2 separate regions of the Homo sapiens genome follow, and region 1 is linked to region 2. The links come from fine-mapping of genetic effects on gene expression. Tissue or cell type: whole blood. Region 2 holds a variant in brackets; the other region holds the start of a gene. All regions are shown on one strand. Distances are between the middles of the regions.

What was found. PIP is the estimated chance that this variant, and not a neighbour inherited with it, causes the effect.
Region 1: TDRP starts here. The variant in region 2 is fine-mapped to the expression of TDRP in whole blood (TOPMed, PIP 0.92).

Annotation. Positions count from the first base shown.
Region 1 is chr8:542,040-547,259 of GRCh38, forward strand. TDRP (testis development related protein) reads right to left here and starts at 2,795. Exons shown (of 3, transcript NM_001384899.1): 1 at 2,611-2,795. The coding sequence starts at 2,718. RefSeq lists an enhancer at 3,774-4,274.
Region 2 is chr8:593,936-599,155 of GRCh38, forward strand. No RefSeq gene overlaps it. Among named protein-coding and RNA genes, the nearest start is that of TDRP, 52 kb to the left of the region's middle. The variant A/G (reference allele first, on the strand shown) is at 2,768.

The DNA.
Region 1 (5,220 bases), 52 kb before region 2:
TAAACTGTGGTACACCCAAACAGTGGAATACTATTCAGTGCTAAAAAGAAACGAGCTACAAGCCGTGAAAAGAAATGCAGGAACCTTAAATGCATCTTTCTAAGTGAGAGAAACCTACCTGAAAAAGCTACACACTGTGAATGCAACCAAATGACATTCTGGAAAACTATGGCGACAGTACAAAGATCAATGTTTGCCAGGGGTTCCGGGGAGGGAGGGTGCACAGAGGGTCTCTAAGGCAGCAAAACTCCTGTGTGTGACACTACAATGGTGGGCAAACGTCAGTACACATTTGTCCAAACCACAGAATGCACAACGAGTGAGCCCTCCCAGGTGAGGACCATGAGCCCGTGTAGGTCCACAGATTGTAACAAACGCACCATTCTGTGGGGGTGATGATAGTGGGGGGCTGGGGATCCATGAGAACTCTCTGTACTTTCTCCTCAAATTTGCTGGGCACCTAAAACTGGATACCTGAAAAATAGAGTCTATTAAAGTTTTTTCCCCCCAAAACCAACACACACTTTAGATGTACAGATAACAGGCCAGGCGCGGTGGCTCACGCCTGTAATCCCAGCACTTCAGAAGGCCGAGGAGGGCAGATCACCTGAGATCATGAGTTCGAGACCAGCCTGACCAACATGGACAACTCTGTCTCTACTAAAAATACAAAATTAGCCAGGCGTGGTGACACATGCTCGTAATCCCAGCTACTCAAGAGGCTGAGGCAGGAGAATCACTTGAACCCGGGAGGGTGCAGTGAGCTGAGATCACGCCACTGCACCCCACCCTGGGCGACAAGAGCGAAACTTCATCTCAAAAAAAAAAAAAAAAAAGTATAGATGACAATTGTGTAAAGGGAAAATCAGAAAAGGAGCTTTAACGAAGGCACTGCCAGCAATTGAATCTAGCTGGAGGATACGAGGAAGAATCTCCTATTCTTCTACTTTTCCGCATGTTAGAAATTTTTCAAAGTAAGAACTTAAGGCCAGGCGTGGTGACTCACGCCTGTGATCCTAGTACCTTGGGAGGCTGAGGCGGGCGGATCACGTGAGCCCAGGAGTTTCAGATCTGCCTGGACAACATAGCAAGACCCCATTTCCACAAAAACGGTTTTTTAAAATTAGCCAGGTGAGGTGGTGCGCACTTGTAGTCCCAGCTACTACAGAGGCTGAGAGAGGAGAATAGCTTGAGCCCAGGCAGGTTGAGGCCGTAGTGAGCCGAGATTGCGCCACTGCACTCCAGCCTAGTAAACGGGGCAAGACCCTGTCTCAAAATAAAAAATAAAAACTTAAGAAAAAAAAGTGGGTTTCAGGATTCATTAGGAAAAATGGGAGAACATAGGAAGACTCAGTTTAAAATTCTCAAGGCTCTATCCAGAAACAATAATATGGCTCATCTTTGACCAATATTAGTTATTTGTAGCTTCTGCAGTTAACTCTGTAGCCACATATAAATTCTCATCATTACATTCAAGAAGAGAGCTGTTTAGAGTAACTATAACATTCTGAAATTAAAAAAAAAAAAGGCACGTAAGCACTAACGCTACCTAAAAGAAATTTCTCAGACAAGTTCAGATAGTAACCATATTTAAGCGCTTAACATAATCGGCTCCATTTTCCATGAGTTAGGAATGGAATTTAACGTTCATAGAAAATCTCTATCAAGAAGAAACAACTCCAGACCCTAAGAGAAACTCTTCTGCTCAGAAACTATTTCCAAGTCCTCGGAAGACAGGTACAAATCCTTATATTCCATTCGGCCTTAACAGCATCAGGAGGAAGTTGCCACACGTTTAACAGAAAGAGATATTTTATGATCCAGAATGCTGGATTTCTGACCTAAATTTCATTGTACATGAAAAAGAGCACTGCAATGGAAAAAGGGAGGGGGGGGGAGGGGGTGGGGGAGGGCACGTCTAAGGCACACAGGGCCCACCTGGGAGCCCTTTCAATTACAAAATTCTAGACATACCAAACATATCTCTACACTCGTCAGGTAAAGGCCTTTCAGTTTTCAGTACAAAGGACTTCTGCCGGCTTCCTTCAGAAAAATCAAGAATTTAAGAAAATACTTGTTATGCAAACAAACATTTAGCCCACTTAACATTGAGCTACGGTCGTCCAAAGCTGCTTAGTGTCCGCGAGGAGGCCGTCCGGATGCGCGATGATTCAGGCCTTCTCCGCCAGCTCCACCCGGGACGCGAGCACCCGGCGTGGACCTCTGCGTCCCGGGCCCACGACGCCCGCGCCGCGGGGTGCGCGCACTGCGTCCCCGCTCTCCTGGGACTGCGCCCCGAGTAACACGTGCAGGGGGCACTGGGTCCCCTGCAAGCGGCGAGAACGCCGGCAGCCCTGGCCAGTTAAGCGGGGAGTGGGTCCACGCGGACCACAGCGGCAACTCAGCCCAGGACGAGCCTCGGGTCAAGTTCTCCGACTCCGCACTCGGGCACCTAGCGGGCCGCGCCCCGGAGCTACGCGGCCCCAACCTCACCTGCCCGCCCAAACTGTGCCCCCAACTACCCGCACCTCCACCTGCGCGCCGCCCACCCTCGCCCTCCACCTGCGCGCCCCCGGCCTACTAGCACTCCCCACCTGCGCACCCCCTCACCTGCGCCTGGGCGGCGGCGGCGGCGGCCGGTGGCGGCCCCCCACGCAGGCCGTCCTCCTCCTCGGGGGGCTCGTCCAGCAGCACTCGGCCCCGGCCCAGCTTCCACATGGTCAGGCGGGCTCCGGCGTCCCTCCGTCCGTGCGTCGGGCTGTGGCTCCGCGTCCCTCCCGGCCGCCGGACGCTCTGCCTGCGGCTCCTGCGGGACGCGGGCCCAGTGGGCCGGGCGGGGCTAGGCGGGGGCGGGGCACCCCCAGAACTAGGCCCGCCCCCTCCCCACCAGGCCCGCCCCAAACCCTCCCCAGGACCCGGCCCGCCCCCAAACCATCCCCAGAACCAGGCCCGCTCCAAGCCCTCCTCAGGACCAGGCCCGCCCCAAACCCTTCCGAAGACCAGACCCGCCCCCAAACCTTCCCCAGGACCAGACCCACCCCCAAATTCGACGGGGCTCCGAATCCCATCCCCCACAGAAAGGTCAACCCCGGCCCCCTCCTCCCAGTGTGGTCCCCGCCACCGCCCCGGCGAGACCCTCGCCCTTCACTGTTCTACTGAACGACGTCCTCACCCCAGGCTACCCCGTCACCTGGTCCCCCCACCTTGACCCCCACCTACCCGCCCCTAGCTGCTTCCTCACCCGGAAACGCCCCCATCCTGAGCCCCCACCGAGCCCCTAGCCCTGCCCTATCCCCGGTTCCCTGGGTCCTCCTCTACCCCCGAGCCCCCACCCGGCCCCCGCAAATTCCCCTCTCCCGGTTCTCTCCTTCTCCCCCGCCGACCCCCACTTACTCCCGGACTGCCCCCTCCCCCCACCCTTTCCCAGACCCTGGCCGGAGGGCGTGGCCACGTCCGCTCGGGTCACCAAGGCAACGGCCGGGAGCGCAGTGCGCATGCGCGCCGCTGGCGCTCAGGCCGCGGCAAGGCTGAGGGGAAGGTGGAGGGGGCACAGTCCGCGGAGCGGCGCCTGTACCCCAGCGCTTCAGGGCATCCCTCGGGGCCTGGGCGCCGGGCATCCGGGACTCATCCCCTCCGGCGCCCGAGGTCGCGGGATAGTGGGGGCGCCGGGAGGAAGCCTCGCCCAGCCCTGGTGGGCGGTGGGGCCGCTGGGGCCTGGGGCGCCGCGGGCTCGGCCCGGACTGACGGCGGTGGGGGGCGGGGATGGGGCCGTGGTGCCGGGCCGCGCAGAACCCTTGGGACCCCCGCGGCGCCCAGGTTGGGGCTCAGGGCCCGGAGAACGTTTTCCCGCGTGGCTATGGCTTTGTCAGAATCAGGAGCGGGAGAGGCGCCCACAGATTCCTGAGGGCAGAACCGCCTGGTTCCCAGGCCGAAAGGAGCCGGCGAGGCGACCCCCGATCCCGGGACGGAGCCGCGGGAACGGGGGATTCTAGGCGTCCGCTCCCGCCCAGCAGGTTAATTTTTCCCGCGACGCGCTTCGTATCGCTTCTTACACCAAATATGTATTCATGTGTTCAGTCATGTAAAAGCGCATTTTGAAGGAGGATCCAGAACTATGAGCTCCCTTGAAAACTGCAAGCTTCGTAACTTTACGACTCTTAAAAAAATGAAATGTACATTTTGAGTTTCCCAGAAGTGATGAGCAGCAAAGCTTTTAAGATGAAAGGGGCTCTGAACTGCCTTTGGGAGATGCCGGCCAGGATCCCGGAGAACCGAGGGGGTGGCGCCCGTGCCCAAGGCCTGGGGGGACCTGGGGCCCTGGCGCGGGACGCACAGGGAGGGCGGGGGCTGGGCCTGGCAGGAGCCCCCAGCCGAGTGGGAAGAGCCAGATAATAACCTAACGATACTAACCTAACTATACCGTCACCCAGAGAGGAGGGCAGCACCCCTCCCACATGCCTCCCTCCCCCGGTGACCGCTAAACCTACCGGCCGCAAACATCACGAAATAGAATTAAACACTGGCGCCTACTAAGGACCACTCCACCCAGTACAAACTAAATTTGAGAGTTCATCTTCACGCAAATAATAAGAATGTTAAAAATGTATATATGCTCCTTTTCAAACAAGGCCTAATAGGCCTGGCCTCCTGGGCTAGGGGGCTTAGAAAATTGCAAATGCAAGATGGCATGGTGTGGCTCCGGGGTGCTGTCAAAATAAGCACATTGCAAGCACAAACTGATGAAAGTCAAAAACTATCAAACAGAGGTTGCAAAACAAAGTCAGGATCCAAACACAGCCCATATAAAGACGCTACAAATAAAACACAGAAAACCAACTCAGAACACTTGGACAAATAACACAAATCCCCCTGGCTAATGCGAAGGAACACAGGGCTTATGCCCAGACAGCTGGCTTCCTCTCAGTCTAGCAACATCCACTCCATGAATTGTCATTAAACTGTAATCCCCTGCAAATCTATGACAATCTGGAAGAAGGTGAGCCTTGCTAAATAAAAAAGCTAACTTACTGAATATTTTAGACATTTAGCTTTCTTCTGAAGAAGAGCACAGCTAGTCAGGATATCTACAACCTAAAGGCCTGGCACAAATGAGAGGGAAGGGGGTTGGGTGGGAGAAGCCGGTGAAACGGCTGTTACGGAGCAGCAGGCATTTCTGGAATTTTGAGAAGAACTTTCCCGAGTACTATGAATTTGACTCAG
Region 2 (5,220 bases):
GAGGGGAGCACCGTGAGGGGAGAGATGTGAAGGGAGCGCCCTGAGGGGAGGGATGTGAAGGGGGCGCTGTGAGGGGAGGGATGTGAGTGAGTACTGTGAGGAGAGCTCAGTGAGGGGACGTTTTAAGCACAACTCCTTGGTTTCACCTTCATCATTCTCTCCCTTCTTCCTCCACACAGGCCTGGCACTGGCATGGGTTGCTGAGAAGGCCCCTGAAGCAGCATTTCATCACCACCATGGCCTCCAAGAGAGCGGTGCCTCCTATGAGCCCTAGAGTGCAGGTTCTCCAAGGGCCACTGAGGCCCTGAGAACCTTCCTCTGCTCACCGTCAAGGTCAGCCGGGACCTCGGAAACTGGTGTTCCTCACTCTCCCTCTCATGTAAACACCTCTGGCTGACCTGGTCGTGGGAGCAGGCTCGGACCTGTGAGGCCAGGCAAGGGTCCCTGGTGAGAAGGGCCTGTTCACCTCCCCTGCCTCCTGCCAGTCACTGTGGTTCTCTCCGGGGTCATCATGGAAGTCTCCTTCTTGGTTCTTCGTCAGCCAAGAGTGACAGGAACAAGAACAACAAGAGGACCTCGTGCAAGGAGCTCCTGATGCCTTCCCCAGTCCATTTGTCCACCCCTTGGGTGGCTCAGACTCAAGCTGCTCTTCTCTCTACGTCTGCTCCTAAACACTGGGGGGTCATCACTCAAGGATAAGGGCTTTTTTTTTTTTTAACCAACAATATCTTTGCTCTAAAGCAAAGCAGGGCTAAGGATGGAGAGACAGAGACCTCCCATCTTTGCTCCTTCACCTGTCAATCAAAAGGGCAATAAAGTGATTGAAAAGGCATAAAAACAAAGCTCAGAGAGGAGAAGACAGGAAGACTCGGCCAGGAGGGAGGACTGAGCAATCTCAGGTAAAGCAGGAACAGGGAAGCCCAGCTACCACCCAGGGGATCTGCGCCAGACTCAGGAAACCTCAGAAGTCAGGGGTGTCAAGGAGCCCGGGTGATTGTGAGGCACCTCAGGCATGCAGGGGCAGCTGGGCAGTGAGGGTGGAGGACACCTTGCTGAGAGGGGTGAGTGGAGCCCCCCTGTGGAGAGTGGGATACCTCACCCACCTTCCAAGCTCCCAGAATGTCAAAGGCCAGGCTCATACCCCCAGGCAGGAGGTCAAAGAATTAAAGGACCTCTCTCTTGGCTGTGGAGGGAAAATCTACAAATGCAGTCTTTGGACTTAGGAGTCCCCAGTGGAAGAACTGGGCCATCTCCACTGCTGTGAGGTGAGGGCCACTCGTAAGCAAGCCCCCATACGCCTCCTACAGCTGTTGGGCCTTGGCTGCAGAGCTGTTGGGCACTTGGCTGCAGAGCTGTTATCAGCCAGGGTCCCAGCAGGAAATCCATGACACGCTCAAGCTTGGTAAATCGAGAAAAGTTTAATTAAGGAACTGCTATTGAAAAGCAATAATCAAAAAAGAACTAATGGCAAACGTGCAGGCAGTCTTGGAATACCATGGGAGAGCTGCAGTGCCCTGCCACCAGCACAAACTCCAGTCTTGAAGGACATGCCTGAGCAGTTAGTGGAACCCAGGAAGGCCACAGGACAGCAGGGATGCCCAGCAAGGCCTTCAGGAGAGGGATGCAGATGACTGGAGGAAACCTCTATGGGAAAGAGCCCGGCTGCATCTCCTCCCCACACACCATCCACTCCCATTGGAAGCACATGTGGCTGCTTCCTGCATGTGAGTGGGTTGGGGTGGGGGGTCTGTGTGGAGGATGCAGGCCAGAGACCCAGGGAGACCCTAACATGACACAGACCCAGAGAGAAACCTGGAGGAAGCCGAGTGGATGGAGGGAGTAGGACGCAGACAAACCTATGATATTCGCAGAGAAACAGGGTGGCCGTGAAATAAGAGCAGACACCGCAAAACTACACACAGAATCTTTCAATTAAAAGTAGAATAGACATAAATAATTTAATAGAAATGTTGAATATTAGACTCATTTACATCTCACAGAAACAGAATAAAAAGATGCACAGATGAAGAATTAGGGAGGAATGAAAAAAGAAATAGAGAATCAACCCAGAAATTCCAATACCCACTTAATGAGAAGAGAGACCAGAGAGGTCAGACAGGAGAGACCAGCAAAGAAATAACTCAAACAAGTGGTCCAGAACTGCAGACAGGAGCCCAGATTGAGAGAGTAGCGCATGCATGAAAGAACAGAGTAAAAACACCTGTGTCATCCACATCCTCATTGCTGAGACACTTCAGGCAGAGCTCACCAGCAGCCCAGGGGCCAGAGCCACAGGCCCCAGCACTCTCGTGGCAGAACTGGAATGGCTGAGACCTCCCTACAGAACGCTGGAGTCTGCAGGGCGGGAAGTGAAGCCTTCTCAGTTCTGAGAGACATTTCTTGCAGCCTAGAATCCTGGTCCCAGAAAGAAAAGGTCAAGGAGAGAATGGCGACGTCTCCAGACATTGCAGGTCTCAAAGGGTTCCTTCCACACAGGGTAACTCAGGCAGCCCTGAAGGTGAGGAGCAGGGAGACACAGGGAAATGTGGCCAGAGCCTTAGGAGCTGAGGCAGTGGGGGCCTCAGGGACGCCATGGCTGGACCTTCGATGTGCCTGATCGTCCAAGGGTCTTTCTTATTTCCGTTAGGAAGTATGTGGCTAGAACAGTGGTCCCTTCCTAGAAGTCTAAGGAAATAACAACTAAAATGCAACAGCTTCTAACCCCAGAGGAAACGGAGTGCATGAAGGGAAACTTAATCATTTTACA[A/G]TTACACAGCTCAGCTGAGAATAAGCTCTGCGTGATCACAGGATGGCAACCTGGAATACTGAGGTCGCCACAGAGTGTGGCTATCGCATTGGAGGAGAAGGGGGTGCAGAGATTGTGGGTGCATGCATGTGCTTAGCAGAAAGGTTAGCTCCTCCCCCATCATTGAAGGAAATCAATAGATGAGCCCCAAAATAAACATGAGACACAAGCATGTTCTTTCACAGGAGGCAAACACCAAGAGACAGAGTGACAGCCGCAAGGACCGAGGGTGGAATAAGGAAGCCGCTTTCACCACAAACCAGGCAGTAATGCTGGCTCTTAAAAGCTTTGCAAGCAGTGATTCTTGCCCTTTTGGCCAAGACCAAGTGTAGTACCTGCTCTTAGCCGTTTAAGAATTTTACATATACAAGTGCAATAAAATTTACAAGTAAAGCCTTAAAAATATGTAGAAAGTTACGTTTTAAATAGCAACAAATAATTTGGGTGTTGATGTGTAAAACAGAGCAGGGCTACTGGGCTTAACTGGAATTTGAAGCAGATGCAGCTTATAAAATTTCAATAATCAGTTTCTGAAATTTTATTTTAAAAAATAATTATGAGTAGAGGACACGTTGCTTTTTATTTTGCTGGTAGTTTTCACTACACACAGACTGCAATTTGGGAATTGCAGAAAGAGACTGAGCTGACCAACTTAGAGCTGTGTCAAGAAAAGTTTCCATTAGGTCCTAAAGTCCCCAGAGGCTAGAGGCTAGGGAGGGCCTGCTACAGGGGCCAGCTGGTTGGACACGGCCTGAGCCCCCACACTCGCCCCCAGATGCTGTGGTTCTGCTGCAAAACCAGACCCTCGTTTCCAGCATCCTCTGTTTCCATGAGCAATACTATAAGCCTTGAGCAGAACCAGAGCCGCGTGCACAGACACGGTGTCATCTCATGATTTCCACCTCCTGAACCATGTGTGGGCACTGACGGCAGACTGGAAAGCGGAAAGCTGCGGGATGTAGTCCTTGCATGGACCCCATGGCCAGGACTACCTCAGAACTTCTGAGGGTTATGTTCCAAGTTCATTCCTGCCCCTGCTCAGGCCCCAAATCTGCCTGCATCTGCAAAGCCCTAGAGCTTGCAGTCCTTAGACCTAAATAAGTGGCTCCTGCTCCCACCAGGCCAGGCCAGTTAGGAGAGAGGGTCAAAGTCATAGGTCACAGAGTGATGCAAAGGATGATGAGATCAGGCAGTGGGGCTTCAGTCTGGGGGCTTCCACAGTGGTCCCAGCCTGTAGCCATTGCCTCTGCACCTAGCCAATGCACCACCAGCCCCCAAGACTTCCCTAGAGGCAGAGGAGGTGATGATAAGGGGACGCTGTGAGGGGTCTTCTGGTCAACTTGCCTTTCTGTGGCCTTTTCCCCTCTTCCCAGTGGAGCAAATTGTTTCCCTGTAGGAGAAGAAAAACTGGACGCCTGTAACCCATGGCAGATGAACAAGAGAAAAACAGAAGTTTATTAATCCACACACCTCATGCGTGGGTGGCAAACTCCAGGGGAAGACGCACAAATCTGCAGGAGGTGGCCCAGAACCCTAGCTTATCTTCAACTAAAATAAAGAAAGAAGATGGGGGTGGCCGGCAACGGGGAGGTGACCAGAAAGGCAGGTGACCAAGGCCACAACTTGCTGTGGGCTTGTAATAGAGCTTTCTCCTCAACAAGTGTCTCTTGTAACTGAGTTTCCCTCTTCTTCCTGGATCCCAGAGGAGACACCCGGCAGGTAGAGATTCCTTCACAGAGGTAAATTCCCCTTCCAAAAGGGCGACTTCTTAGAGCTTCTCCTGCAGCTGCCATTCCTCAAAATCCTTGTTCAATGAGGCACACTCTGGGATGGGGCCTTCTCTCTCCTGAAGGTCCCACGGGAAGGCCTGGGCTGGGTACCAGACTCTCTTCCAAGCCAAACAACCTATCACCTGGAAACAGCCACTTTTAACCACAAGTGATGAGAAATGCTTTATTCTCTATTTGGATATTTTTAAGTGCCTCTGTACAACTGTCTCTGTCACCAAGCCAGTTCCACTGATCAGAGCACTGCAGGGGACATCAGATCGGGGATCCCCAACCCCCGGGTCATGGACCAGTACTGGTCTGTTGCCTGTAAGGAACTGGGCCACACAGCAGGTGAGTGACAGGTGAGTGAACAAAGCTTCATCTGTATTTCCAGCTGTTCCCCATTGCCCATGTTACCAGTTGAGCTCTCTCCTCTCAGAGTAGTGGTGGCATTAGATTCTCATGGGAGCACAAACCCTATTGTGAACTGTGCACAGGAAGGATCTAAGTTGCATGCTCCTTATGAGAACCTAATGCCTGATGATCTGTCACTGTCTCTCATCACCCTCAGATGGGACCCTCTAGTTGCAGAAAAACAAGCTCAGAGTTCCCACTGATTCTACATGAGATGACTTGTATAATTAT